Homo sapiens: one gene and its partners. The protein of the gene in region 2 purifies or fractionates together with the protein of the main gene of each other region. This does not show direct contact. Each region holds a gene or a part of one and is shown on either strand. Other genes may lie near its edges.

Region 1 (7,725 bases), on a different chromosome or scaffold from region 2:
ACTATTTGCAATAGCAAAGCCATGGAATCAACCTAAATCTCCATCAGTGGTCTATTAATGGATAAAGAAAATGTGTTACATATACAACCTGGAATACCATGCAGCTATAAAAAAGAATGACAGGCCAGGTGCTGTGGCTCAGGCCTGTAATCCCAGCACTTTGGAAAGCCGAGGCGGGCAGATCACGAGGTCAGGAGTTCGAGACCAGCCTGACCAACATGGTGAAACCCCGTCTCTATTAAAAATACAAAAATTAGCCAGGTGTGGTGGCACACCCTGTAATCCCAGCTACTCAGGAGGCTGAGTCAGGAGAATCGCTTGAACCTGGGAGGCAGAGATTGCAGTGAGCCGAGATCGCACCACTGCACTCTAGCCTGGATGACAGAGCAAGACTCTGTCTCAAAAAAAAAAAAAAAAAAAAAAAAAAGAATGAGATCATGTTCTTTGTAGCAACATGAATGGAGCTGGAGGCCATTACCCTAAGAAGACTAACACAGGAATAGAAAACCAAATACTGCATATTCTCACTTATAAGACGGAGCTGAACATCGAGTACATATGGACACAAACAACAACAAAACAACAGGCACTGGGGCCGACTTAAGGGTGGAGGATGGGGGATGGGGAAGGATCAAAAAACTACCTATTGAGTACTATGCTTATTACCTGGGTAATGAAATAATCTGTACATCAACCCTAGGACATGCAATTTACCTTTGTAACAAACCTGCACATGCACCCTGAACCTAAAATAAAAGGTAAAAAATATAGCAGATGTTACAGGACAGTTCAAGAAAACACTCCACACTCTTATGTCCCAGGGGATTCCTACTTTAAGAAACGTTTCCAACTCCTTTTGTAAATAATTCTTTATTCGTATCCCCTTATGTGACCATTCAGTGATTTGTCTTTTAGTTCAATTCAACTAATATTTATTGAGTACTTAGCACAGTTTGGGCACTGTGCTTAAGACATACAAAGAAGAAATAAACTTGGCCTCTGCCCTGGAATTTCTGACAGCCTAATAGCAAAAACATGGAATCAACCTAAATGCCCATCAATGGTAGACTGAAGGGGAGGTGGACTGATTTATAAAAGTAAAGCCTTTTCCTGAAGTGAGACAACAGACTGCTATCATACCGTTTTATGATAGTCTTGGGGAAATAAAAAAAAAAATCCAGACTGCTATTAGAGTTTATCAATAAATTTTCATTAAAAGGCAAGATCTCTGATCCTTCTCAAGAGACTATTTGATTTTGATCACATTATTTTATTTAGAAAAAGGAGAGATTTGGGGTGGCTGAAGTATAGTTGTGATACTTAGAAACACCTGTTATTTAAGAGAAAAATCATCGTGTTTCCTTTGGCAGCACATTTACAAACACTGGAATGTTACAGAGATCAGTGTGGCCTCTGAGCAAGGATGACATGCAAATTCTTGAAGTGTTTCAGATTAAAAAGACAGAGAGAGAAACACTGTCATTACTTTTTAAACTCATTTAAAATCTGAAAACTGGGACCTTCCTTTCTTACCGTCTTATCTCACTGACCCTGATCCACAGACGCAAGGGAAGCTAAGCATATGATCACTCGTGGGGTAACTGTCATTTTTCTTTATCTCACATCTTGAGCACATTTGAGTGCCGTGCCCAGCACTCCAAGGATTTCTGTCAGCATGTATTTATTGGCCTTTTATTAGAAACTTTCTTACCTCATGTCTGCTCTCATGAATATAGATCAGAAATTAGAAACAAAAAATATTTATCTGGTAAGCAATTTCTTTGGTAACTGAACTAATAGGAACTACTGGGACTTCCTGGAAGTGAGGCTACCTTTTCCATTAGAGTTTATGCTTCCTCTTTTGTAGACTTCACACATTGCTCAAATATTTGTGGCGTGCATTCCAACTACAAGGTGCAATTGAGGGACGAGAAAAGGGAAAACTTAGTTGGGCAGACAGCTAAAGTTGGTCTTTGGTAAAATTCTTTTAAACAGAAAGACAGCCTGAAAAATCAAGCTACAGGCACACATAGAGTGGCCTGGGGAAAACTCAGGCAACAGCTGCCCTGATAAGAAAGGAAGGCCCAACATAGAAGCCTTTTGTTCTTTGTGTGATTAGCAGGTTCCCAGGAAAAAGTTTCTTCCCCTTTTCAGGCACATACATGGTGGGCTCTGTGGGAACTTGCATGGGGGTGGAGAGGGTGATTACCTAGAACCCACAGTTACACAAACAAGAGAAGCTGAACTTTATCCTTACCCAAGACATACCCACAGCTGCACAGATAAGGGGAGCTGCACAGATAGCTTTACAAGTAAGTTACACAAACAGCTACAGAGATGAGAGGAGTTTCTTATAAAAGCTTTTGGATTCAACTGTAAAAGTGGCAAAATGGCAAAGAAAGAAAGCTTTCTTCTTTCATATAATAAACTTTCTCTTCAACCTCACTCTGGTGTCCACACTCCTTAATTCTCTTGGTTGTGAGACAACAAGCTTGGATAACACCTCAGACAACGAGACCACTGACCACTGACCCGTTTCACAATGACGTACTACAGGATGGTGTATGCTGGGTATTCATACATCGTCATGCAACTTCCTAGTTTTATGTGTAAGGTAGTTTCCTCTGTCATCACCTTGGTATTTCCCATCTAGTCACGGTATTAAGTGGGTCTTATGCGCTTGTTAAGAGCTGGTAAGAGAAGCTTAACATTCACTTGATGGAATGGTTACTGTGGCTTGTATCCACAGGAGCTCCAGCTCATGCTTAAAATACTGTGTTAGAACAAATGGATCAGAGTGAATTCTGTAACAGTAAATCCACAGAACTGAAAATTACTGACTTGCATCATAAACTGGTTGCAGTGGCAAGGCAGAGAGTTCAGATTCGTGTTGTACTGGGGAAAGAAGAAACCAAAGAAAATAAGTGGTTCATACACAGGGGACTATTTAACTGATCCAAGCCAGAAGACTACTGAGGGTGAAAGGAGCATTATCAGTAATTATGTTTAGACAAAAGTTGTGACTGTCCTTAGTAAACCAGGATAGACGTAGAGTCAATTCAAAAAGAAAGAAAGAACAAACATATCTAATGTACATTAAGAACCCAGGGATATCGGGTTCTTAATGTGCATATTTATTGGATTGCCCAGAGCTTTGACCTTCAAGTATAATTGAGTTCTTGAAACTTAGATTTAGGTTTGTGGTTAAGGGGCAAAATAATCAGATTCCAAATAGGGTTCTGCAGACAAATCCCACAGGTCCTAAAGTCTCTGGGTCTTTTCCTTGCCATTGTGGTATCTCAGGGGCTTGTGTAGGCAATGATAACCAGTTCCATACTTCTGCTAAGAGAAATTTGGGGATCAGAAAATCTTTCTCTGCAGCTCTTCAGAGTCTCTTTAATTTACTTCAATAACAAGGAAATCAGAAATCTCAGGACAGTGCTGGATGTGGCAGAAATTCAGGGCAATTCACAACTTTCCTACCAATTTAGAGTTACCTGTCTGGAATCACTTCAACTGACAGTGGAAGATAGTTTATAAAATTGTAGGGGAGGCAAAATTTCACCTTCGTCCCTGTAGGGTCCCAGCATGGCCCTAGTATTAAATTGATTTAAGATATTAATAGACTGACAGGAGACAACCACACAAATGTTTATTTTACATAGCACGGGGGCCCTCATTAAAAAAAAAAAAGACCTAAAGCAGCAGTTAAGAGCCAATTGCTTATAGAGTGAAATGGACAAAAAATAGTAGTTGTGAAACATGATAAGGCGAAGGGGCTTGGGGTAAAGAAGCGACTAGAAAGATAGGGATTAACAAATTTTGTTTGGACAGATTTCCCTCGACTTCAACTTTCTGTCCTTGAAGATAACAATGTTATTTTATAGGGAAGACATCTTTCACATGGGAATTTCATCTCCTCCTTTTAAGACACATAATATCCATGACAGTGATCTTGCACCTGCTGTTTTTAAGTGCCTTTAATTTAAAATAGTCAATATGCCACAGCAGCATATTTTGAGGTGGTATATTATTAACTCCTTCAAGGCTAAAAGCTTTGAATATGCCGGGGTAGTTACCAGACTGGAGAACCTTCTCAGCTATTTGCCACTTGTGGAATGCATTCAAATGTACTGAGTGCTTATTAACTTTTCTCTCAGTCCCTCACTCTGCTGCTCTTCTCGCCTCATCTCACATAAGGGAAAACTCAGGCTCCAAAAGCAAAGTGATTCCACCAAGATGACAATGGAATCGGGACCTGGTGTCCAAGCCTGGTCCTCGCACGAGGTAGATACTCCCTGAGATGCTGGGGAAGAGCCATGGTAGGGCCACTCATGGCCCTCTTCCTTTGGCGGACCTTGGAATCCACCTTCCCTGCGTTAAAGTGCTCCACCAGGTGACGCCGGAAGAGAAGCCAGCAGTAAGTACATGTGAAATCCAGTAGCTGACCACAGACACGCGAGCGATAAGAAAAAGCTCGCTGCTTCTTTTCTCAACACTCCGCCAGCTGCGTCAGAGGCCCTTGACCCGCACTCAAAATGGCGGCGGCGGCGTCAGCATCAGCGGCCTCCTGCCCGTATCTATCGTGGCGGCGACGGGACCCGCCTCCCTGGGCGCCGGAGTCATGTGACCCACACAATGGCTGAGTGGCTACTCTCGGCTTCCTGGCAACGCCGAGCGAAAGCTATGACTGCGGCCGCGGGTTCGGCGGGCCGCGCCGCGGTGCCCTTGCTGCTGTGTGCGCTGCTGGCGCCCGGCGGCGCGTACGTGCTCGACGACTCCGACGGGCTGGGCCGGGAGTTCGACGGCATCGGCGCGGTCAGCGGCGGCGGGGTGAGCGGCAAGCTGCGGGGATACGCGGGGGGCGGCAAGAGCCCGCCCCGTGGGGCCAGCCCCACAAGCCCCCGCGGCGTTGCCCTGCGTTTCCACCGGCTCCACTCTCCGCCGCATTCCCCTAGGGTGCCAGTCAGCAGGCGGTTGGGGCGGGCCCGCTGCGGGGCTGGGGCGGGTGCTTTCTCGTTTAACACGAACCAGACAGGCAGTTAGGTTTGAACAAATGAGGATCCGGAGGTCCAGAGAGTATAGGTGCAGAGAGTAAAGTGACAGGTCTAAGTAGTGAAGTAGCCGGGGCTGGAACCCTCGTCCCAGGCAGTGGGGCACAGGCTGTCTTCATCGCGGAGATGGCAGTCGGGGAGCGTCGCTCCAGAAAGGGCCAGGGAGTGCGGGAGCGTCCGTGTGCGAAAGAGAACGCCCCAGTGGGATGCTTTGGCTGTGTCTCTCCCTTTTGGAGGAGTTGGTGGGTGGTGGAGTCGTTAAGTCCCGTGCAGTTGTTAGTGCAGGGTAAGAATGGGCTCCTCCAGAGAGGGTAGCGCCGAATAGGATTTCGTTTGGAGGCAGGACTGGTGCCTCAAGGTCTCTTTAAAAGGAAGATAAGCGAGCGGCCTGAAACTACCGGGTACTCCCTCTGGGCCCATGGGCTTCATGGTGGCCGACCTTTGGGTGAGAAGGTTTTTGTTTTTTGGTTTTGTATCCGAAATTACATCTAGGGCTAATGTTTCTTGAAAATGTTAAGGTTGAACTCGGATTTTTGGGGTTGAGTTGGATGGAGCTTGCATCCTTACATTCAACTCAGAACAAGCTTGAATGCCTGCTGCAAGGATGACCTGGTCTGTAGTGTGACCACAAGATATAACCTTCTGCTAGGGGAAATTTTTTTCCCCCTGGAGTTAGCTGATCCTTTTTGATTTTTATGTTTTCATTCCCTAATTTGCAATCTCTCCAGCCGTGCTGATGTGTATTTCAGGGGAAACCTGTGGGCCGATGAGTTAATGCATTTATTCTTTGCTACTACTATTCTCCTTTTTATGTTTTTGGGCTAAACCTGAAACAGCCAATATTTCATGGAGTGAGGCCCCATCTTTTTTATAGCTTTACTTGTGATACTATATCTAGGGTAAGAGCTTACCGAAAAATGGAAGTCTTTGTTTCCATTAGGTTTATTAAGCCCAGTTTAAAATTACTAAGATGAGAAGAATCATTTCGTAATTCAAAGTAGGAAACTCCTACCTAATCTGATAGAATATACAATTATTAGTATCCCTATATAGTTCATTACTCCTCATAGGAACTCACTAAATAATGAAAATTCTTGCAACATTATATTTGCATACCACTTTAAACTTCTTTGTGGAGTCCTTGGTTCCTAGCCCAGGTTGTGCCAGTAAGTGTTTAGAGTGCTGTCATTTAATCTTCATGTCAGAGAGGGAAAGCGGTATGGTACAGTAAGTAGTTAAGAATGTAGGGCCGGGCACGGTGGCTCACGCCTGTAATCCCAGCACTTCGGGCTTCCGAGGCGGGCGGATCACGAGGTCAGGAGATCAAGACTATCCTGGCTAACACGGTGAAACCCCGTCTCTACTAAAAATACAAAAAATTAGCCAGTCTTGGTAGCACGCGCCTGTAGTCCCAGCTACTCGGGAGGCTGAGGCAGGAGAATCGCTTGAACCCGGGAGGCGGAGGTTGCAGTGAGCCGGGATCACACCACTGCACTCCAGCCTGGGCGACAGAGTGAGACTCCGTTCAAAACACAAACAAACAAAAAAACCCAAAAACCAAACCAAAGCGAAACAAAACAAAAAGAATGTAGACTAAAGAGAAGATTGCCAAGAGTGTCTTCTGGGTTCTGCCACTTCACTGTGTGGCCTTGGTGGGTTATCTATTATAACTCCTCTCTGCCTCACTTTCTTTTTTTGGGATACAGTTATACCTGCATGGTAGGAGCGCCGTGAGGATAGACCTAAAGTACTTAGGATGATGTCTTGCACATTACTAATTTTGGTTAATAACCATTTTCAGGGATTAGGGAGGAGGAAGTTATTTCAAGGCCACTGAATGATGAAATGTCCCCAAGGCTTTTTCCTGGGCCTGTAAACAGTTCCAGGCCTCATTCAGGCAGTGTGGTTAGTAATCCCGTGATTTGCTATTGCTAGATGGTGCATTTTAACATTTGGTTATATTGCCTTTGACTTATGCTGTTGTGTTAGGTGTGGCTATAGGTTTGCAATAACATGATTGGTGTGTTTGCCTAAAGCCGATACTTTCTCTGTTAAATGTGGGAGTGCATAGAGGGCAAAAGAAACCCTAGACAGCAAAACGCACAGTATTAATGGCGTAGCGTAGGACAGGAAGCATTGTTTACCTAGGGTCAAGGATATATTAGTGTGCCTATACAGTGTTCATTTAAAGAGTGCCTATTTTAATATTGGAGCCTCTGCTAGGTTGTAAGCTCTTTGAGAAATATGTATTTTAAAAAATTTGTGTATATAACACTTGCCTTTATTGAGAACTTACTATGTGCCAGGTAATGTGCCAAGTCCTTTACATACATCTAATTTTAGTCTTACAGCAGTTGAATGAGTAAGATAGCCCACTTTACAATAATTTGCCTATGATTACATAGCTTATTAATGATGAAATCAGGATACAAACTCCATTTGACTCAAAGACTCCTATTTATGTTGCCAGTACCAGTGCAACAAAAGACCCATAAAATATTTAATAAGTGTTTATTGAATAACAAAGAATGAGGATACAAACTTGAATAAGATACAGTCCATGTCCTTAAGGAACTAAGAGGTGAGTCAGAAAAATAAAGGAGTGCCGGGGTTCAAAGTGTTGTAATAAAGATATGGACCTGGTGCCAAAGGAGAGGCGCTTACATCAAAT
Region 2 (7,107 bases):
GATTACAGGCGTGTGCCACCAGGCCTGGCTAATTTTTGTGTTTTTAGTAGAGATGGGTTTCGCCATGTTGGCTGTGCTGATCTCGAACTCCTGGGCTCAAGTGATCTGCCCACCTGAGCCTCCCAAAGTGCTAGCATTACAGGCATGAGCTACCGCACCCAACCCTTTGTCTATTAATTCTACCAACTGGGTTATTTCTGGGTATGTTTCCATTCTGTGATTTTTCTCCATTTTATGGGTCATATTTTCCTTTGCATCCCTGGTAATTTCTGCCAGGGACTATGAATTTTGCTTTGCCAGACATTGTGAATTTTGCTTTGTTTTGGGGGCTGGATTTTTTCTTTTTCTTTTTTTTTGTATTCCCTCAAATATTTAAGGGTTTGTTCTGAAATATACTTCATTAACTTGGAAATAGTTTAATCTCTTCAAAATTTGCTTTTAAACTTTGGTAGGCTGGTCTAGAACAGCTGTTAGTCTAGATTTTTCTTTTCTTTTCTTTTCTTTTTGCCTCTGGTTCCAGTTCTTGTGATAGAATTAATTTGATCCCATTACTGTGGACTCTATTCAATGCCTGTCATGTTAAGAGGTATTTCCATACAGACTGGTGAGAACATGAATGTTCTCTGTGTGAGCTCTGGAAACTGTTCTGTCTGCTGCTTTCCAGTGATTTTTTCCCTGACTTCCAGTAGTCTCCTCACACAAAAGGGCTGATCAACGCTCAGCTGCTGACTCATGAGCAAGTCTATGCAGCTCCCCAGAGAGTTCTCTCTGTGCAGATCTTTCCTCTCCAGTACTCTGACCTGCAAAATTATCGCCATCTCAGCCTCCTTGAAAGATGAACTTTGTTTCTTCAACTCAACAACATCTCCAGCCTCTGTGTGCAGCCTGGAAATTCCATCCAGGCAGTAAGGTGGAGTGCTCTTAGGGCCCATCTCATTTGTTTCCTTTCTTTCAGGGATCATTATCAGCAAGGCTTGCTGTCCAACGTCTGAAAACCACTGTTTTATATATTTTGTCTGCTTTTTTTGACAGGAGGGTAAATCTAGTCCCTGTTACAGCTTTTTGGCTGGAGGCAGAAATCTTGTTTGTGATTTTTAAGAATTACTCTCTTAAATTTAATTTTGTTTTATAATTATGTAAAATACAAAGCTCTGAAGTTAAAACAAGGTACAGTAATATTCTATATAACATTTTGGTCAGTGATGAACCACATATATGACAGTGGTCCCATAAAATAATACATTTTAGTTGTACCTTTTCTGTGTTTAGTTAAACAAACACTAGGTGTTACATTACAACTGCCTACATTATTCAGTACACAATATGCTGTACAGGTGTGCGGCCTAGGAGCAATAGGCTATACTATATAACTGCGATGTTAGTAGGCTACACTATCTAGGTTTGTGTAAGTGCACTCTGTGATGTTTGCACAATGATGGTATCACCTAATGACGCATTTCTCAGAATGTGTCCCTATCATTAAGTGATGCATTCAGAAAAGTCTAGGGTCTAACCCTTTGCTTTTCCCTACACACTCACTGAGGTAAACATTAAAAAAAAAAATTTCCCCCTCCACCCCTTTTAAGTTTTTATTATTTCCATACTATTGTTTTTATTATTAACATAAACAAGTATATACATCCACTTACATCTCTACTTTCTTCTTAGGTGATTAGCAGCATACTACAAAATTCTCTCAAACTACTGTTTTACTTAGTAATTTATCCTGAAGATCACTCCATACAAGTATATAGAGATAGTCTTCATTGCCTATCTTTTGAATTTATAACTTAAAAGAAGGAATTAAAAATGTAAAAACATTATTACTGATATTTTCAAGGTCTTTACTTACGCCATGCTGAAAGAGGGTTTTGCATCCTGGTCAGATAAAGAAGCAATGGTGTGCTGAGGAAATCCTTCATAGAAGAAAATGTATTACTTTCTTTTTCCAAGCAAACAGCAGAATTCTAGGACTAAGAACCTAAAAATGTTCTTCTCAAAAAGCCAATGAAGTTGTACAAAATATCACTTTACTGCCTTTCAGATAAGCTTATTATAGCATGATGAAACTGACTAATTCCAAGCTACAAGAAAAAGTAGAGGAAACGGGGGAAAGACCTGTCTATATATGACCTCAGATTCTGAAGTTCATATATATATTTTTCTTTTTTTTTTTTCTTGAGATGGAGTCTTGTTCTGTCACCCAGGCTGGGGTGCAGTGGCATGATCTTGGCTCACTGCATCCTCCACTGCCTGGGTTCAAGCGATTCTCCCACCTCACCTTCCCATGTAGCTGGGATTACAGGCATCTGCCACCATGCCCAGCTATATATTTTCTAACTTAATGATTAACACTACTTTTTAAAGAGGTTGTAATTTTTACATCATTTCTGATAAAACTGAAGATATCATAGTACACCTTCATTTTATCTACGTTTATGCTTTTATGTTTAAAATTTTGAAATGCTCAAATCTTTCATGTAATTTGTTTTCCATATACAATTTTAAATTCTGAAAACATGTTCAGGAAAAGCAGAAACCATTTTTAAAAAGATATATTACATAAAAAATGTAAATGTATCTACATATCAAAACAAATAAATAAAAGTAAAGGCAAATAACCAACAAGAAAAATATTTGCATCGGGTGACTGAGAAGGGTTAACATTCCTAAAGGACTCTAATAAATAAATTATAAATTTAAATAACTTTAAAATGAAATAAGAAAATATATCAGTAAATCAAAAAGATTAGCCAAACATAAGATCTAAAATATATTGAATGTTTACATCAAGCATTATTCTAAACGCATCATCTGTATTAACTCAATCCTTGAAACACACAATAAGGTTGATAGTTACTGACATCATTAAACACATGAGAAGACCGTGGAAAAGAGAGGTCGACTGGTAATATAAAAGGCCAAAAGTAGAAAAGCATTTTATTTCATTAACATTTAAAAACATACATATTAAATAAGGAGATTATTTTTCTATTAAAAGTTATACTTTTTTCAATCTAAATGTAATAAATTTTCATTGTAACATTTTTGTAAAATAGAAGAAAATAACATTTTAAAAAAGTGATCCAAGGCCGGGCACAGTGGCTCAAGCCTGTAATCCCAGCACTCTGGGAGGCCGAGGCGGGCGGATCATGAGGTCAGAAGTTCAAGACAAGCCTGGCCAACATGGTGAAACCCCGTCTCTACTAAAAATACAAAAATTAGCTGGGCATGGTGGTGCCCGCCTGTAATCCCAGCTACTCGGGAGGCTGAGGCAGGAGAATTGCTTGAACCTGGGAAGCGGAGGTTGCAGTGTGAGCTGAGATCGCACCACTGCACTTCCAGCCTAGGAAATAGAATGAGACTCCATCTCAAAAAAAAAAAGAAAAAAAAAAGTGATCCAAAACCAATAATTTCCCCTCCTTTGAGCAATTTGGTGTACTTCCCTGCAAGCTTTGTCTTTGCACAGTTTGTATTACACAGCTTTGATCATCCAGTACAGAGAATTTTGTAGCTTATTTTATTTTTATTTTATTTTATTTTTTTGAGACAGAGTCTTGCTCTGTCACCCAGACTGGAGTGCAGTGGCGCAATCTCAGCTCATGGCAACCTCCGTTTCCTGAGTTCAGGCAATTCTCCTGTCTCAACCTCCTGAGTAGCTGGGATTACAGATGTCTGCCACCATGCCCAGCCATTTTTTGGTAATTTTTAGTAGAGACAGGGTTTCGCCATGTTGGCTAGGGTGGTCTCAAACTCCTGACCTCAGGTGATCCGCTAGCCTCGGCCTCCCAAAGTGCTAGGATTACAGGCATGAGCCACCACGCCCGGCCTTTGTAGCTTATTTTAAAAAATTTTTAATATAAGTGTTTTTCTTTTGTTTTCTTTTTTGAGACAGAGTCTCGCTCTGTCGCCCAGGCTAGAGTGCAGTGGTGTGATCTCGGCTCATTGCCAGCTCTGCCTCCCGGGTTCATGCCATTCTCCTGCCTCAGCCTCCCGAGGAGCTGGGATTACAGGCGCCCGCCACCACGCCTGGCTAATTTTTTGTATTTTTAGTAGAGATGGGGTTTCACCGTGTTAGCCAGGATGGTCTCGATCTCCTGACCTCAAGATCCGCCCACCTCGGCCTCCCAAAGTGCTGGGATTACAGGTGTGAGCCACCGAGCCCGGCTTAATATAAGTATTTTTCTATAAACACAGTTTATACCTTTCTAGCCTTAAAAATAAAGAAAGCCAACAGTATTTTCTGGGTGACAGGACTACTGGTAGTTTTAATTTTTTTTTTCCACTTCTCTGTACTTTCCAAAATTGCTTCAACAAGCATATTTTTTCTTTAAAAATTCTTAAATATTAAAATAACTTGTGCAAATGAAAATAGAGAGCCTAGATATGTATTTTTTAAAAACATAAAAACACTTACCCATACGAATAAGTGAGCATTCAGAACTTGAGCTAGCAGGAGGAGGACTAAGATGATGTGTGAGCAACTCTTTGTAATGGCTTTCATCTAAAATAACATGGTACGTGCCTAACAAGATGAAAAGGGAAAAAAAAACACCTTCATAGACATAACGAACTGTACGTTCTATGTAATTCTGTAAAAGTTGTATCATCTGAAAATGTACATTTTTAAAATAATGATTTTAGCTAAATTATCACTTTTAAAACCTTATTTAAGTAATATATCTAAATCAACTTCTCTAGGAATAACTATAATTACAATTGATTATTATTACTATTATTATTATTTTAACATATAAATAGAGACAGGTCTCACTATGTTAACCAGACTGATCTCAAACTTCTGGCCTCAAGTGATTCTCCTGCCTTGGCCTACCAAAATGTTGAGATTACAGGCATGAGCTATCATGCCTGGCCTGTAATTACAATTTAATTAAAGACAAGTTATAAAATCTTTATAAAGAATTACATACAGTAAAATTTCCAGCTTTCCAAGAGTTATAATACCTCCTCTAAATACTGACATAAGTACTGAAAACTCTTTGCATTTGGAGATGATTTCTTATGGAATCAATGATATATTTAAGATGACTGCCCATATTTTAGACTACTTTAAGTTTAGTAGCTCAGAACAGATTAAAACATCCTAATTTAATTAATAAATTATTTCCTACACAGTAATTATAAGCAAATATTAAATAAATTATATATATACCACCAGTTTCACGAGCAAGTACAGTGCAAACGCGAACTTCTGCAGACAATCCAATAACAGATACTCTAATTTTAGCTGCCTTTAGGGTCTTCATAAAATCCAAGTAGATAGATAGTTTTAGGAAAGAAGAAAAACATTTAAGATTTAATGTATTTGAAAAATAAAGAATGCTCTGAAAACTAGTAATAAATTCAATACATCTAACACAAAGATGAATCACACATACAAAAATACATATATATATAAATCAATTTGCTACAGAATTCTCTTTACAGTTATAACTTTGGTTTTGATTTTTTGGTCTACCTTGATTAGATCATAAATATTAGATGGATCGCAAGTTGTAAGGCTGCTAAAGATGATTAGTACTTCTCGACTTGTATGTCCAGGCATGTGTCTTAAAAGAAAGATAAAATACACTCCAATTAGGTACAACAAATTATACTACCAAAAAATTTACCCAGAAAGAACAGTAAACATAGGATTACACATTTAGACTATAGAATATCTCATTTGTTTCAACAATGCAAAGAAAGGTTGTGAGTATATTTTAAACACTTTAATGCAAATTTTTCTAAAATGAGCTATGCACTTCAAAAAATTGTTAATTGATTCATTTAATATTTACCAAGTACTCTCAAGTTCTGGGGGTAGAGTGATAAACAAGACTGACAATGTTCCCGACATCATTAAGCTTACATTCTAGTAGGTTTGTTTCATACAAAGTCTAGAGTATACAATAAAAAATACAACAATATATGGATAAACTTTAAACTAAAATGTGGCAATATCATATGGATCAGCTTTAAAGTGCAGAGATGTGGCTTCAAAACAGTAACACACACTTCTTTCTCAAAGACTATAGTAGTCCCCTCTTATCTGCAGAGGATACATTCCAAGACCCCCAGTGGATACCTGAAATCAAGGATAGTACTGAACCCTATATATACAGTCGTTCTTCGGTATCCTTGGGGGATTGATTTCAGGCCCTCCTATGGATACCAAAATCTGCAGATGTTCAAGTCCCAGATACAAAAGGGCGTAGTATTTGCATATAACCTATGTACATCCTCCCATATATTTTAAGTCATCTCTAGATTATTGATAATACCTAATACAATGTATACTATGTAAGTAATTGTTATCCTCTATTATTTAGGGGATAATGGCAAGAAAAAATGTCTATTTGTTCAGTACAGGTACAATTTTTTTCCAAAAATTTTTGATGCGTGGTTGATCGAATTCCCAGGATTCAGAGGGCTGATTATACCATGTTTTTCCCTATACAGGCATACCTTGGAGATACTGCAGGGTTGGATTCCAGACCGCAGCAATAAAGCAAATATCACAATAAATATTTGCAATAAAGCAAGTCACATGAACTTTCAGGTTTCCTAGTGTATATAAAAGTTCTGTTTACGGCCAGGGATGGTGACTCACGCCTGTATTCCCAGCACTTTGGGAGGCTGAAGCGGGCACATCACGAGGTCAGGAGATCGAGACCATCCTGGCTAACACGGTGAAACCCCGTCTCTACTAAAAATACAAAAAAATGAGCCGGACGTGGTGGCAGGAGAATGGTGTGAACCCAGGAGGCGGAGCTTACAGTGAGCCAAGATTGCGCCACTGCACTCCAGCCTGGGCGACAGAGCGAGACTCCGTCTCAAAAAAAAAAAAAGAAAGAAAAAGAAAAGTTCTGTTTACACTATACTGTAGTCTAGTAAGTGTGCAACAGCATTATATCTAAAAAAAAAAGTACACACCTTTATGAAAAATACTTTATTGCTAAAAATCGACTGAACTGTCAGTGAATAATATCTTTTTGTTGAAGGAGAGTCTTGCCTTGATATTGATGGCTGCTGACTGATCAGAGTGGTGCTTTCTGAAGGGTGAGGTGGCTATGGCAATTTCTTAAAATAAGACAAAGTAGTTTG
Region 3 (7,725 bases), on a different chromosome or scaffold from region 2:
AGCCTGGGCAAAAAGAGTGGAACTCCATCTCAAAAAAAAAAACAACAACAACAAAAAAAAACTTTATCAGTGCTTTACACATTAATAACTTTTATGAATTTATGTATTTTAGTTCTGTACAAATACCATTAGATATTACATGTAAGTGAGTACACTGAGACTGAGATACCATAGATTAAGGAAGAGGCTGTAGCTAAACCAGTAATCCTAATCTCCTGACACCTTGTCTGTTTTTTTTTATGCCACCACACCACATACTGTTTTATACTCTACGACTTATGTACCTGTTTTTTAAGGCAGGCTGTACCTCAAAGAATCAAGTCTCTTATCCTTGAACAAATTACCTACTTTCTTCGAACACTGCTGGCAAAGCTTTAGACCAAACCTATTTTTCTGCCATACATTACATTCCTAGGCAACATTCCCCTTTTGTCAGTCATTATTTACTCAAAGAATAAAATCTAATTTTAACATTAGCCTTGGCCATACCTAATCAGAAAGAAACTTGTTGTGTACTCTAGGACAAAGAAAAATGCTTTAAACCATTCATTGTTTTGGACTGTTTGTAAGAGTTGACATTGCAAGGTAAAACTTAACACACACCCAACCAAGACAACAGATCCTTTCATTCTGAACTCCCATTTAATTTCTCATTCAAGGCTCAAAGCATTCACACTGTGTCCGTAAGTTTTCCCATTCTTTATGTCTACATTTGCTGAATACTCTTTCATCCTTATTGAAGGGCTGAAATGTCATCAGTTTTTCTCTCACCTTTATAATTGTGCCCATGGCCATTTGGATTGTTGCATTTCCCAAACAGTTTCAAGTTTTCTTCATCACTTAGAAATTTACTGACCAAAAAAAAAAAAAAAAGTCAGCATGACACAAGTATCACATTCAAACCCCCTTCTCTGTTCCTTATATTTATTATTTGTACTGATCTTTGAAAAGTTTCCCAATTTATTACTTTAGCTCACCAAAGGGAGAGTCAGAAATCATGTTGATTTTATTACTTACGTATACGTCACAAACCATGGCATATTCCCTAATTAGAAGATTGTACCATACAAATTAGCACAAACAAACCTTAACTTCAACCCCCTTGTTCCACAGCAACTGATCTGCTCATGGGCCTTCCACTTTTCAATTCAACATTACTGAGTGCCTACAATGTAACAGGCAAGTGCTGAATGAAATAACAGCATATAATGATAAACATAGATGGTGATCCGCAAAGTGGCTTACTATCTCATTTCTCTCAGAAGCTAAACTACTCATCCAGAAAAAATAATTTAAAAAAATTACATGACCTGGTAAGTCTCCTATTTAGCAATCTTGCTTTATACTATGTCTCAACTACTGCCTCATGAGAACTTTACCAATCTGTTGAGGAATATTCCAAGCAGGTGAATTTTTAAAATTACAATCTTTGGCTGTCGTCTCAGACAGAAAACAAATTGCTTAATGTTTATACTTATACCCATCCATTCAATTTCGCATCGTCTATGAGACCTTACCACCCTCAGGTGTTTAAGCTTATTATACAACCCCTTTTTTTTGAGATCCTCTTTATTATTCCCCCCAATGTAGTTTGGATGTTTGTCCCCTCCAATTGTCATGTTGAAATGTGATCCCCAGTGTTGGAGATGGGGCCTAGTGGGAGATGTTTGGCTCATGGAAGTGGATCCCTTATGAATGGCTTGGTGCCCTCCCTGAAGCAATGAGTGAGTTCTCGCTCTATTAGTCAATGGGCGAGCTGGTTGTTAAAAAAAGCCTGGCACCTCCTCTCCTCTCTCTTGCTCCCTCACTTGCCCTGTGAGTTGCCTGCTTGCTCGCCCTTCGCCTTCCACCATGAGTGGAAGGTCCCTGAGGCCTCAACAGAAGCAGATGCTGGTGCCATGCTTCTTGTACAGCCTGCAGAACCAAATAAACCTCTTTTCTTTATAAAATACCAGTCTCAGTATTCCTTTGTGGCAATGCAAAATGGAATAACACACCCCCACTTTCTCCTGCTCAGCCACTTCTTGTATTTAGAGTGCTAAAGTCTTTTGCACAAAATTTTCTCAGTGTACCCTCCACAAAATAGGCCAGATTGGAAACCCCATACAAGATCCCTGATGCATCCGTTACCTAGCACAAGCCCTGACAAGCACGAAACAAAACCTGGTTTAGCGAATGGAGGGATGAATCCTGTTAGATAGCGATGGTCATCCTCATTTCACAGACGACGATACGGAGGGCCAGAGGGTGGAGCTGGTTAGTGCGTGGTAAAATTCCTCAAAATCAACTCGTCAGTGCATGCAAGCAGTATGTATGATCGGGATTCAAATCCCAACTATGCTGCTTCGGAAACTGAACGTCTGGGCTCATTTTTTTTTTTTTTTCTCCTAGCCACTAGACCACCAGGGACTGGGTTCATCCAGTCTTTGGTAAAAAAGGGGCTAAAATTTGCCTTGTAATTACATTAGATATGGTGGCCAATGCTCCTGGCATACAAGATTAGCTAACATTTACTGAGTGTCTACGCCGCGCCAGGTACTGTGTAACATAGGCGAGTTTAACACTGCTGAGTTTCACAGCAACCCTGTGGTCTACACCAAGGGACTCCTAGGGGCAGAGACGTTTCTTCGAGTCGCAGAACCGGGTGTGGGCCCCGCACCCAGACGTGGGCCATCGCCCTCCGCAGTCGGCTCCGTTAACCATCAAGCTCCCCCACCCCTCCAGGGCTGGGGACACTCCAGCCCCCATCAGGATGCTGGAGGCCGTCCGAAGCCCCACGAAGCCGACCAGCGCGCGTCGCCCCAGCAGCCCCCGCGCCCCTCCCGGGCCCGACGTCAGCACGCCCGCCGGCCCCGCCCCGGTGACGTTCCGGGGCCCGGCGCCCACCGCCCGCCGCTGTACCTGTGTGCACACCCTACCTGTACAATCGGTGGCTCGCGCTGAAGGAGATGCGGCGGGACACTTGTGCCTGGCAGCGACGGCCACCACCTTCCGTGCTCATCTTCCCGGCGCTGTCTGCGGTGCTCGGCCGGCACCTCCTCCCGCCGCGCGGCCGGTGCCTCCTCCCACCGCGGCTGCGCAGTGCGTGCCAGACGCGCCCCTAGGAAGTGCGTCTCCGCTTCCGCTCTGGCCAATCCCGGCCTCGGGAGACAGTTAAGGGTGTCTCTCGCTATCTGAATCTCTTCGGAGAGCAAGATTTGGGATACCTAAGCATACCCTGGAGTGGTCAGGGTGGGTGGGGACCCTGTGTCCTTGATCTGTTTGCCCCGCCTGAGGTCACGCCACGTAGTTAGGGCCCGTCTGGGCACACTTTGGGTCCTGAGTGACCTCTCTGAGCCTCCTCTCCCACTCTCTCCTGTAAAGCTCCAGTGACTGGTGACTCAATCGGATGAACCCCAGGGCCACAGTCCGCTTTATAGACCAAAAGGAGCAGGAATTGAGCCAGGCGGGCGTGGTGACGCACTCCTGTAGCCCCAGCTATTGAGAAGGAGAGGGATCACTTCAGCCCAGGAGTCCAACCTGGGCAATAGAGCAAGACCCTCGTTTCTCTTTTTCTTTTTTCTTTTTAATTATTATTATACTTTAAGTTCTAGGGTACATGTGCACAACGTGCAGGTTTGTTACATAGGTATTCATGTGTTATGTTGGTTTGCTGCACCCATCAACTCGTCATTTACATTAGGTATTTCTCCTAATGCTATCCCTCCCCCAGCCCCCTACTCCCTGACAGGCACCGGTGTGTGATGTTCCCCACCCTGTGTCCATGTGTTCTCATTGTTTGATTCCCACCTATGGGTGAGAACATGCAGTGTTTGGTTTTCTGTCCTTGTGATAGTTTGCTGAGAATGATGGTTTCCAGCTTCATCCATGTCCCTGCAAAGGACATGAATTCATCGTTTTTATGGCTGCATAATATTCCATGGTGTACATGTGCCACATTTTCTTAATCCAGTCTATCATTAATGGACATTTGGGTTGGTTCCAAGTCTTTGCAATTGTGAATAGTGCCACAATAAACATACAGGTGCATGTGTCTTTAAAGTAGCATGATTTATAATCCTTTGGGTATATACCCAGTAATGGGATGGCTGGGTCAAATGATATTTCTAGTTCTAGATCCTTGAGGAATCGTCACACTGTCTTCCACAATGGTTGAACTCATTTACACTCCCACCAACAGTGTAAAAGCATTCCTATTTCTCCACATCCTCTCCAACATCTGTTGTTTCCCAACTTTTTAATGATCGCCATTCTAACTGGTGTGAAATGGTATCTCATTGTGGTTTTGATTGGCATTTCTCTGATGGCCAGTGATGATGAGCATTTTTTCATGTGTCTGTTGGCTGCAGAAATGTCTTCTTTTGAGAAGTGTCTGTTCATATGCTTTGCCCACTTTTTGATGGGGTTGTTTGATTTTTTTTCTTATAAATTTGTTTAAGTTCTTTGTAGATTCTGGATATTAGCCCTTTGTCAGATGGGTAGATTGCAAAAATTTTCTCCCATTCTGTAGGTTGCCTGTTCACTCTGATGGTAGATTCTTTTGCCGTACAGAAGCTCTTTAGTTTAATTAGATCCCTTTTGTCTATTTTGGCTTTTGTTGCCATTGCTTTTGGTGTTGTAGTCATGAAGTCCTTGCCCATGCCTATGTCCTGAATGGCATTGCCTAGGCTTTCTTCTAGGGTTTTTATGGTTTTCGGTCTGATATTTAAGTCTTTAATCCATCTTGAGTTAATTTTTGTGTAAGGTGTAAGGAAGGGATCCAGTTTCAGCTTTCTACATATGGCTAGCCAGTTTTCCCAGCACCATTTATTTAATAGGGAATCCTTTCCCCATTTCTTGTTTTTATCAGGTTTGTCTAAGATCAGATGGTTGTAGATGTGTGGTGTTATTTCTGAGGCCTCTGTTGTGTTCCATTGGTGTATATATCTGTTTTGGTACCCATACCATGCTGTTTTTGTTACTGTAGGCTTGTAGTATAGTTCGAAGTCAGGTAGCGTGATGCCTCCAGCTTTGTTCTTTTTGCTTAGGATTAATACCGTTTCTTTAAAAAAAAATTTTTAAAGAGCAAGAATTTGAGAGCACAAATAGGACCACGTGACAACAGTCCTTTGGACTGTTGTGTAATGATCCTTACTAAGGGAAATTCTAAAGCCATTCTTATCCACAAGCATGTATGGACCCATTTATTACTCTGGGTTGGCATAGTGTGAATACAGACACCCCTAAACACATATTAGCAATTCTTCTGCCAGTGTAGACACATTGAGAGTGAAAGGATCTTGTTTCCTCACATCTACTCACAAGAGTAACCAAACTACACACAGTTCCCAGAATCATGTCACCTCTTGCTTCCATTCACTCTTTCACTAAATATTTATTGGGCATCTACTATGTGGCTGGCATTGTTCCAGGTACTGGAGAGGACAGCTCCACTCTATATGAGAAAAATCATCACTGTATATGATGAAAAGCAGGACAAGTCACTGATTAATAACAGGCTTGGAAAAGTTTCCTGTAAAAAGAAAGATAAAATCATGGGGGCGATAGAAATAAGCTCAAATGGTGATTTCCCTCAAATATCTCCTATTTACAGCTATATATTCTGTTTGTTCTGCATTAAACTACTAACAGGTTATTTAGCAAACACTCTCCATACATTTTCAGATGTTTGTCTCATCTACCCCATTGTACTGTAAAGAAAAAACTTCAAATAACATTTAGAGATTTTCGAGATAGAGACTGTTTAGTTCAATACTTTCACTTTACAGATAAGAAAATACAGCCACAGATAAGTGAATTACTATTGCGAGATCACTCAGAACAGAAACATTATTTCCCAGGTATGGACTGCCTCAGTGATAAATACTCTCTAACAGTCAGTGGTTACACAAATAGTTGCTCATTCCAAAACCAGCTTAAAGAATCAAAATAAAGTGAAAGAGTAAGAGAAATTTCTGCAAAATTATTTTTATTAATAATACTTGTTTGTTTTAGTAAAATATTTCACTGCATTTGCAGAGTTGAAGTTTAACCTGTTTGGAAATAGGATTGTTGCACACGTATTGAGATGAGGTGTTTAGGATGGGACCTAATCCAACATGACTAATGTTCTTGTAGAAAGGGGAAACTTGGACTCAAAAACTGACACATACAGAGGGAAGATCATGTGAAGACACAGACAACACCATCTCCAAGCCCAGGAGAGAGAACTGGAACAGATCTTTCTTCAAAGCCCTCAGAAGGAAAAAACCAACTTTGATTTCAGACTTCTAGCTTCCAGAATTGTGAGACAATTCATTTCTGTTAAGACCTCTGTGGTACTTTGTTATGGCAGCCCTAGCAGACTAACACACTAACCAATAAGCAAATAACATTCCTCTTAACTTAGCTTTCAGTGCCTTGAGATCAACAGCCATTTAGGTATAGTTCTCCCTTCACTCTTGCAACATTTACTGGCTTGTGCTTGGCTGCGTTGTCTCAGAAGGCTAGCTTCTACTAAAAGATCCCATAAGGGCCCCTGGCCAGCCTTCCTGCCTCAACTCCCCTGCTGTCTCCAGGGGCAGGTGGCAGGCATGGGTACCTGCATTTCACTGGAGTGGGTTCTTGGATCTCTGAGGGGAAGGAACAGCAGAAGAGGCCCTTCTTCCTCACCCAAGATGCAGGTGGTTGGGGCCAGGAGTTTGGACCCTCCAGGTCTTGGGGGAATAGCTGGGTAATACCTGGTGTCTGAGCGATTCTCTGCAGACCCTTCCCCTCCTCAAGGACCACCCATCCTCCTTTCAGCCCCCTTTATGGGGGCCGGGCAGCTCTGGAGCCAGCCACAGAGTCTCTTACAGAAGCAAGGCCTGGAGTGGCCTGCACCAAGAAGCAGGGTCAGGGTTCGTGTGCTCCTCCTCCTGCCACAGGGGCCGCACATCCCATTGCCCCACTTCTGCTTTCTGTCTCCCTCTGTCTAGCTTCTAGGGCAGGAGCAGGCCCCACCTAGGGCTGCAGGCAGTTTGGCCTGTGCCAGCACGGGCTCCTGTGCCCACCAGCCTCACAGGTGCTGTGCTTTGTGCTCTTGGCTGCTGTGCTGGGACAGAATGGGATGCCAGGAAGAGAAGAAGAAGAAAGGGGGTGCAGTCTGAGGCCACCACCCTCCTTCCTATCTAAGGGAGGGCTGAAGACAAGGGGCTGGCATTCAGTGGGTAACAGAAAGGAGAGGCCCCTTGAAGCTGCTCAGTCAAAGGGCCCCTGTCCCTCCTTTTGCTCTCCCCAGGACTAAAGACCTGAAGGGGCTGGGTGTGGGGCTGGCTTTTGGAGTGTCAAGGTGAATATGTGGGAGCAGAGATCATGAATAACTCAGGGCAGTGAATGGCGCACCAAGGGCAGGGCTGTGTGTGGGAGGCTGCGGCCAAAATTGCCTCAGCTCCTCCCCCTCAGGCTGGGAGGCTGGGGGCTGGGGGTGGGGGTGGAGGGTCTCAGCTCTGCTGCCCCCACCCCAGTACTAGCCTAGCTTCCCAAGCTGGGGCTTAGAGGATAGTTGGCTTCCTGCCTCTCTCCACTAAAACAGCAAGTCTGGGAAATCCTGGGGCGAGTGGAGTCAACCCACACCCCAGTTGCTGGCAGAGACTGAGACTAAAGCATCACTTAATAAATACCCCCAAGCCCCCCCACCAAAAAAAAGATCCCATAAGGTACTCCAATGGACATATATTGGCAAGGTAGGCCCCATATCTATCACCT

The links.
Region 1: the proteins of GTF2H2C (region 2) and GALC purify together in Homo sapiens (affinity purification with mass spectrometry; 3 studies listed by BioGRID and IntAct, with this or other methods). This does not show direct contact.
Region 3: the proteins of GTF2H2C (region 2) and PTS purify together in Homo sapiens (affinity purification with mass spectrometry; 3 studies listed by BioGRID and IntAct, with this or other methods). This does not show direct contact.

What each region holds. Positions count from the first base shown.
Region 1 is NC_000014.9:87,990,078-87,997,802, reverse strand, and holds the start of GALC (galactocerebrosidase isoform a precursor), read left to right. Parts: upstream 1-4,620; 5' UTR 4,621-4,638; coding exon 4,639-4,833; intron 4,834-4,948; exon of another isoform or gene 4,949-5,472; coding exon of another isoform or gene 5,473-5,499; exon of another isoform or gene 5,500-6,706; intron 6,707-7,725. UniProt on the Homo sapiens protein: Hydrolyzes the galactose ester bonds of glycolipids such as galactosylceramide and galactosylsphingosine.
Region 2 is NC_000005.10:69,577,175-69,584,281, reverse strand, and holds part of GTF2H2C (general transcription factor IIH subunit 2-like protein), read right to left. Parts: intron 5,571-7,107; coding exon 5,480-5,570; intron 5,262-5,479; coding exon 5,174-5,261; intron 4,526-5,173; coding exon 4,418-4,525; intron 1,917-4,417; coding exon 1,853-1,916; intron 1-1,852. UniProt on the Homo sapiens protein: Component of the core-TFIIH basal transcription factor involved in nucleotide excision repair (NER) of DNA and, when complexed to CAK, in RNA transcription by RNA polymerase II.
Region 3 is NC_000011.10:112,221,720-112,229,444, reverse strand, and holds the start of PTS (6-pyruvoyl tetrahydrobiopterin synthase), read right to left. Parts: upstream 3,018-7,725; 5' UTR 3,002-3,017; coding exon 2,919-3,001; intron 852-2,918; coding exon 772-851; intron 1-771. UniProt on the Homo sapiens protein: Involved in the biosynthesis of tetrahydrobiopterin, an essential cofactor of aromatic amino acid hydroxylases. Catalyzes the transformation of 7,8-dihydroneopterin triphosphate into 6-pyruvoyl tetrahydropterin.